2 separate regions of the Homo sapiens genome follow, and region 2 is linked to region 1. Evidence: fine-mapped expression QTL. Tissue or cell type: esophagus mucosa. Region 1 holds a variant in brackets; the other region holds the start of a gene. All regions are shown on one strand. Distances are from middle to middle.

What was found. PIP is the estimated chance that this variant, and not a neighbour inherited with it, causes the effect.
Region 2: it holds the start of WNK4, and the variant in region 1 is fine-mapped to the expression of WNK4 in esophagus mucosa (GTEx, PIP above 0.99).

Annotation. Positions count from the first base shown.
Region 1 is chr17:42,817,599-42,821,598 of GRCh38, forward strand. It overlaps BECN1 (beclin 1), which reads right to left. Exons shown (of 12, transcript NM_001313998.2): 3 at 3,176-3,243; 4 at 1,950-2,011; 5 at 1,189-1,279; 6 at 946-1,082; 7 at 623-817. Among named protein-coding and RNA genes, the nearest start is that of MIR6781, 4.3 kb to the right of the region's middle. RefSeq lists an enhancer at 182-1,381 and a silencer at 2,452-2,501. The variant C/T (reference allele first, on the strand shown) is at 2,154.
Region 2 is chr17:42,778,469-42,782,687 of GRCh38, forward strand. It overlaps WNK4 (WNK lysine deficient protein kinase 4), which reads left to right and starts at 2,142. Exons shown (of 19, transcript NM_032387.5): 1 at 2,142-2,848. The coding sequence starts at 2,231. VPS25 (vacuolar protein sorting 25 homolog) reads left to right here. Exons shown (of 6, transcript NM_032353.4): 6 at 489-1,131. The coding sequence ends at 601. RefSeq lists an enhancer at 2,215-3,172.

The sequences.
Region 1 (4,000 bases):
GAGGTGTGATCACAGCACACTGTAACCTCAAACTCCTGGGCTCAAGTTATCCTCCACTTCAGCCTCCTAAGTAGTTGCTAGGACTACAGGTCTACCACAGCAGCCTAATTTTTTTTTAATTTTCATTTTTGTAGAGATGGGGTCTCACTTGATATTGCCCCAGATGGCCTTAAATCCTGGCTTTAAGTGATCCTTCTGCCTTGGCCTCCCAAAGTGCTGGAATTACAGATATGAACGACCATACCTGGCCCCCATGAAATGTTTAAGCTTGGAGGGAACAAATGTAGGCTAATTAGCTCATCTTTTCAGCTAAGGATGGCTAGAAAGTGGCTGATTCATCCAAATGAGCCCATTCCCTACAGGACAGAGCCAAGACTGGAGCTCTGGTTTCTGCACTATTTAACCAACATACTTTTTTCACTTAATCATGCTGACTCTTCATAGGTAACTCTCCCAACAAACCTCTAGAAAAAGGGCATGGAAGCAATATGCAGGATCTGGGGCAGGCATGCTGCTGACTGACAGCTGACTAGTTTACAAACTATTCAGACACATTCAGCTGGAAGCCATTTCCTCTCCTGGAGCCTCGAGTGTGAGAAGATAGAACAGGGTGAGCACTCACTGAGCTTCCTCCTGATCCAGTCTCTCAGCCTCAGCCTGGACCTTCTCGAGATTTTCTGCCACTATCTTGCGGTTCTTTTCCACGTCTTCCAGCTCCTGGATCAGCCTCTCCTCCTCTAGTGCCAGCTCCTTTAGCTCCATCTGTAACTGTTCACTGTCATCCTCATTCATTTGCTCTAAGATCTCCAAACAGCGTCTGCCAAAGACACAGGCAGACTATACTTACTAGAGCTCCATTTGCCTGAGTGGAGTACGGCTCTTGGGTAAGGGCCAAGCAGTCTCAGAGCAGTAACAGCTCTGAGCCCTGGCTCTGGAGACACTCACTTGTAGTTCTGACACTCATTTTCAGTGACGTTGAGCTGAGTGTCCAGCTGGTCTAAAAGAGTATCTGTGCATTCCTCACAGAGTGGGTGATCCACATCTGTCTGGCCCGACATGATGTCAAAAAGGTCCCCAGTGACCTGGAAGTGTGGGAGAGTCAGGGTAGGGCCTCCCCCATGCTTCCTGCTCAATTACCCACTCTCCCAGCCAGGCCTACTGCTTGCCACCGGAATGGGGCCGACTTGCCTTCAGTCTTCGGCTGAGGTTCTCCATGGTGCCGCCATCAGATGCCTCCCCAATCAGAGTGAAGCTGTTGGCACTTTCTGTGGACATCATCCTGCAGACAGCCCCCCGCCCACGGGCCACATGAGGGAACAGAGAGGCTTCCTCCACCTACTACAATGCCAGTGGCAGAGACTCTCAAGCACCAGCTGAGGGGCCTCAAGGAACATACCCACTCCTAGCCCGACTGACCTCCCAAGGGTACCTCTCTCCCAAAGGAAGGCCATGCTGGTCTTCCACAGGGACACTCAGCATGAAGGTTGGCCTTGGTGGACTAAGGAGGGAGAGGGAGCATAAAAAATTCATATGTCTACAGTGGAAAAGAAGGGAGAACCAGGAAAGGCCATTTTAGAAAATATTATACCCCTTGCCAGCAAGCTCTTTACCTGCAGCAATGAGAACTAAGGACCTGAACATCTAACAACATTTGCTAGTTTGAAACTTCTCAAGAGCCCATCTCTTGGTGATTGGTCAATCACTCCCTCAATTTTTTTCAATACTTCATCATTAAAGCTACTATCCTTTCCCACTCTGTGAACAGCTACAGGAAAAAATCCATACTGGAAGGTGACGGGCCAGGTATAAGGGAATACATCTTTTCTGAAAGGGCCAAAAGGCTAGGTGATGATGCATCTCTATCACCTGGCTCCAGGTCTCGATTCCTGGATTTAATTAAAATTCTACTAGCCTTTGGCAAGGAATGGGGGCTGAGAAGTAGTAGGCACCTGGCTGGGGGGATGAATCTGCGAGAGACACCATCCTGGCGAGGAGTTTCAATAAATGGCTCCTGGGAAAGAAATAAGAGGGCATTACAACTCTGGCAGCTTAGAGGTAGAGTTCATCTCCCAAACAGCCTCAGAACTATATGGCTTTAGTCTTGATAACCACAAGACTTGATAAACCACAGAGACTTAAAAAATGGGTATTAT[C/T]GAAGCAATCCTTGTGTATGTGGACTAAGAAAGGACCCACGATACAGACAAACCTTAAGTCCCATTTGATTTTTTTTTTGTGGGGAACAGCATTTCCTAACTATGTTACACTCTATGTATGGTTAAATTTGCATTTCTCAACACTTAGCAGTCAGGGGCAGAGGACAGAATGCCCTAAATCATAGTACAAGGAAAAAGCCAGATCAGACTGCAATGAAGTCTGCCACAGTACAAAGTAGAAAATTTATATGTTTTCAGTATTTTGAGATTACTCATATGTGACCAAAATCTCACAGCATCTATTGACTTCAAATGCCAGACCCCTTTGCCTCCTTGCTTAAAGGCTTCTCTGGCTCCTGGACTCTTCACTGCCTGCAGGGGGCGCTGGCCAGAATTAATGACCTCCACTAAACCTGACATCAGCACTCCCCCAGTGACTGGCAGCTGTGGGTAAATAAATACTCCAGCTCCCTTGCTACTTGAGAAGAAATCTCAGGTGTGTATTCAATAGTATCTCACAGGATGTTGCTCCACAGGATCCCTGATATTATCACAGCTTAAAATGACATGTTCTCTAACACTGACAATTCTTTCTGTCCAGGGCAATCATACAATTCACTGTCCTAACCAGGATGCTTTTGAGAATGGAAAGGAGTGGATATTAACAACTAGCTAGAACAACAGATGCAAATCAATGCTCTAGAACGACCTGGACACACAGGTCATCCCATCTCCAACCTACAATAATTTATAATTCTGCTTCAAATAAAGAGCCCTTTCCAACATTTTAAAATGACTAATTCAGTAACCCTGTGACCTCAGGTGCAGATCTGTACCTCCAATGGTGCATAGCAGCCTGATCATGTAGAATGTCTCATTACCCAGAGATCCCAAAAGTCCGGGAGCTCTAGAAGCGCCAAGTAGCCTGCAGAAACCAAGCCTGCATTCCTGTTTTCATATCATATCTCTCATTTGGAATGTTTACTACATGAGGAGGATAGGGGAGAGGGCACTTCTATTACCTCTCCTGAGTTAGTCTCTTCCTCCTGGGTCTCTCCTGGTTTCGCCTGGGCTGTGGTAAGTAATGGAGCTAAGGGCAAGGAAAATATTGGGTCAGAAACAGTCTTATTAAAGCAGGAGGGCATCTGAAAGTATGGGAAAAGAATGTGAAATATTCTCATCACCACCCTCACCTCCAATTTTTCTTAAAGTACCATTTACACCAAAAGAATCTGTGGTCTTCCTCACCCCCATTAAATCAGATTAAAGAAATGTTCAATTTTTTAAGGCATAATGGTATCATTATTATTATTATTATTATTACTTTAAGATGGAGTCTTGCTCTGTCGCCAGGCTGGGGTGCAGTGGCACGATCTCGGCTCACTGCAATCTCTGCCTCCCGGGTTCGAGTGATTCCCCTGCTTCAGTCTCCCAAGTAGCTGGGACTACAGGCGTGCACCACCATGCCCAGCTAATTTTTTTGTATTTTAGTAGAGACAGGGTTTCACCATGTTGGCCAGGTCTTGATCTCCTGACCTCGTGATCCACCCGTCTCAGCTACCCAAAGTGCTGGGATTACAGGCTGAGTCACCGCGCCCGGCCGGTATCATTTATCTTTAAGAATCCTTATCTGTCAAAAATACAGAAATATTTACAGTATTTATGTTTGGGATTTGCTTCAAAACAATTCAGAGTGGGAAGGAATGGATGGGGCTGTAGACAAAACTTGATTAAATATGTGTTGATAATTGTTGCAACTAGGTGATGGGTACACAGGAGTTCATGATATACTCTGAAATTTTCCATCACAAAAGCAAACATCCTGTTTCCCCCAGAATAGCAAGGAG
Region 2 (4,219 bases), 39 kb before region 1:
GCCACCGCGCCTGGCCTGTGCTCCCAGCTAAAAGCTAGAAAAAGGGCAGATAATAGTGCTGGAGTTTAACAGTCTCCTGGCCAGGGGTACTGGCTATATTCTTTGTGTTAGGATAGATCCTCTAGGGTCAGTGTCTAGTGACAATGGCTCCGATCTCCCTAGGCCTGATTTTCACGGCCCCTTTGTGGCCCTGAAGCAGATGGTGTCATTCTCGTGCATCAGACACAAATGCTAGGTGTGGGGGAGGCTGAGTCTGAGAGGAGAACCAAGAAGGGGGAAATAAGCACAAACTCATTTCATGCTGATTCAGGCTTTCTTCCACCCCTTACTCCTAAGGAGTGCCTGGGAAGTGTGGATGGCAGCTGTAGCAGTATAGATGGCTTATGCATACCCTGCCTCTGGGAGGTCTCGGCTTCCAGCCAGAGCACTCTCCTCAGAGGCCTTGGGCCTCAGGAGCTGATTGTCTCTGCCTATCTCTCCCTGTTCAGAGTTCCACGGGCTGGATGAAGCCACTCTACTGCGGGCTCTGCAGGCCCTACAGCAGGAGCACAAGGCCGAGATCATCACTGTCAGCGATGGCCGAGGCGTCAAGTTCTTCTAGCAGGGACCTGTCTCCCTTTACTTCTTACCTCCCACCTTTCCAGGGCTTTCAAAAGGAGACAGACCCAGTGTCCCCCAAAGACTGGATCTGTGACTCCACCAGACTCAAAAGGACTCCAGTCCTGAAGGCTGGGACCTGGGGATGGGTTTCTCACACCCCATATGTCTGTCCCTTGGATAGGGTGAGGCTGAAGCACCAGGGAGAAAATATGTGCTTCTTCTCGCCCTACCTCCTTTCCCATCCTAGACTGTCCTTGAGCCAGGGTCTGTAAACCTGACACTTTATATGTGTTCACACATGTAAGTACATACACACATGCGCCTGCAGCACATGCTTCTGTCTCCTCCTCCTCCCACCCCTTTAGCTGCTGTTGCCTCCCTTCTCAGGCTGGTGCTGGATCCTTCCTAGGGGATGGGGGAAGCCCTGGCTGCAGGCAGCCTTCCAGGCAATATGAAGATAGGAGGCCCACGGGCCTGGCAGTGAGAGGTGTGGCCCCACACCGATTTATGATATTAAAATCTCAACTCCCACTGCCTGCCTCTTAAATTACTACAGTACTGGAATGGGGATGGGGAGGGCTGTGAAGTGTTGCCACCTGAGTAAATCCCAGCCTGGGAGAGGGGAGAGAAAAGAAAGCTTATGGCTTTTGTAGAAGAAAAGGTCCTCCAGGGCCCTGTGGGCTCCAGTGAGCCTGTGGTTTTACATCTGCTGGGTGGGCTGTGTGGAGGAGTGCTGATGGAACACAGCTTGGGGACAGACTGCTTTCTCTCTGAATTGGAGTCACTTAAGGGCTCCCCCTTCCCTCACCATCTCCCTCATGGAAGTCCTGAACTACTCTGAAGCCCCTCCCTCCACCCATCTGGTCTGGGTGGGGTAACTGTGGCCAAGGGGAGCTGAGGGGGGTAAGCCGGATGTGGACTTTGGTTTATTGGAGACTGGCAAACAGAAGGGGAGGAAGGAGAGCCCATATAGCAAAAACAGCCACTCTGGCCAGGGTTAGGCTGCGGCCAAGGTGGCCTGGAGGGGATGGATGACCGGGCTCTCGGTTTGGGGGAGGGACTTATCCTGGGGAGTACACACCCATTCCCTATGCAGACCAGAGGGACAACAACGTCAGACCTTTCCACTGACCTCTCCGTTCGGCCTGGGGCTACTCCGGACAGTTAGGAGGGGGTGGTGCTGCCTTATCTGGGGTGTGCAGGAGGGTGGTAGCCTCCCCCTAAGTAATCCCCCACTAGGGTCCGGGTGTCGTTCTCTCCTGCCCTCCTCCGCGCACAAACAGGTTTGCTCACTCTTAGTGCGGGAGGATGCTCCGCGGTCTCCCACTCAGTTCTGGCCTCAGAGTGAGACTGCGGCCGGGGGCTCGGGAAAGAAGGGGACGCGGCTGGGCGGGGCGGTGACTAAGGTGAGGGGCTGCTCGCGGGATCCGCACCGCGGGAGCAGCTCGGAGGGGCGGCCCTGGGGGGCAAGGGCGGGCCGCGGGGCGGCGACGGGGGCGGGGCCAGGCCGAGCTGGGGGCTGGGGCCGCAGCCGCTCAGCCGGAGCGCAGCGCACCCAGCGAGTCCGTCTGTCAGGCCGCCTCCTCTCCGGCCGTCTGATTTTCTACCCTTCGGCGCCCTGCTCTTCCTCATGTTGGCATCCCCGGCCACGGAGACCACCGTCCTCATGTCCCAGACTGAGGCCGACCTGGCCCTGCGGCCCCCGCCTCCTCTTGGCACCGCGGGGCAGCCCCGCCTCGGGCCCCCTCCTCGCCGAGCGCGCCGCTTCTCCGGGAAGGCTGAGCCCCGGCCGCGCTCTTCTCGTCTCAGCCGCCGTAGCTCAGTCGACTTGGGGCTGCTGAGCTCTTGGTCCCTGCCAGCCTCACCCGCTCCGGACCCCCCCGATCCTCCGGACTCCGCTGGTCCTGGCCCCGCGAGGAGCCCACCGCCTAGCTCCAAAGAACCCCCCGAGGGCACGTGGACCGAGGGAGCCCCTGTGAAGGCTGCGGAAGACTCCGCGCGTCCCGAGCTCCCGGACTCTGCAGTGGGCCCGGGGTCCAGGGAGCCGCTAAGGGTCCCTGAAGCTGTGGCCCTAGAGCGGCGGCGGGAGCAGGAAGAAAAGGAGGACATGGAGACCCAGGCTGTGGCAACGTCCCCCGATGGCCGATACCTCAAGTTTGACATCGAGATTGGACGTGGCTCCTTCAAGACGGTGTATCGAGGGCTAGACACCGACACCACAGTGGAGGTGGCCTGGTGTGAGCTGCAGGTGCGGCTGGGAGCCCCCTCGGTGGCACCTTGGGATGGGACTCTGGAGGTCTTAGGATGACAGACAGAGGGTGGGGGAGACAGCATCAAGGGAAGCATGTATTTTTCCAGTCAAATGTCTATAGACACCTCTGCTGTCTTTGCCCTGAATGATCTGGCTGACTCTGGGCTGCAGAAGGAGAGATTGAGGCAGGTGGTGTCTGGTGACTCCCCCATGGGTATGAACATTCTCACTTTAAAGTCTCCATACTCAACCCTGAGAGGTGGAAAATAGGATGGGAAGTTAGGCAGGGGAGCCAGTTCAGGTCAGTTTCCTGCTGGTGGGTACCCGCAATCCCTTCCTCTCCCCTAAGTCCTGAGATCCTCAGTTATGACCCTGGTCCTCTTGATCCCCTCACTCCTCCCGTCCCCCACCTATTTGCAGACCAGGAGGCTGGGATGCGGGAAGCCAGGAGCTGGGCAAGGGTCATCTCCAACTCCAGAAGATTTAGGGCAGTTGTGGCAGAATAGGGCCCCCTAACCCCTTCTGGAGCAGTCAGACTTCTGGACTTCTCCACAGCTGCGAGGAGGGGGACATAGGGAGCTCCAGCTCTCGAGTGAGTCCAGTTCTGCTCCTCATCCCACTGCCTACCTGTGCTCTCCCTTCCCAGACCTAAAGGCACTAAGCCCATGGGCTTTAGGGGGACCTTCCTCCCATTGCTCCCATGCTACATATGGGTTAGGAGAACCCAGTCAACTTGGGGCCTGAAGCTTCCGATTCAGATCAGGGGACAGAGCCTAGGGGAAGGGTCCCTCTCCAGCCCTGGCACAGGGCTCGCCCCTTGCGCCTGCCAGTGCCGCGCCCCAGGCTCTGGGCCAGGCCAGGAGAGGCAGCCAAATTGGGGGGTGAGGGGAGGGAGAGGAGCCGGGGCGGGACGACTATGGGGGTGGGCAGCCTCCTGGCGCCTAGTCCTGGATCTTTTCTTTCCTTCTCAGTACCTCCCTCCATATCCCTCCCGCCTTCCGTCTGGATCTAGCAGTTCTGTTTCTGGGGCCAACCCCCTTGCCGGCCCCAATTCCCTGCCCGCAGTATCCTGCTGCCCGCCTGCTGCCTGCTCACTGCCAGCCCCCGGGTGCCCCCTCCCGCCCCATGGCCGGCCTGGGCAGCCACAAAGGCACTATTGAGCTCAGGGCTCTGGGACCGGGCTGCATAAAGGTGCTTGTGTCCAGCAGGGGGTCTAGGGGGCTGCCCCAGGCCCAGGTTGGGTGTGTCCTTGGATCAGCTTACGTGCGGGACTGTTGGAGAGTTCAGGGTCTGCAGCCCACTGGGCAAGTAATCCCATTAACCCCACCCCATCTGTGGGCTCCAACCCTCACCTCTTCCCCCAACCCC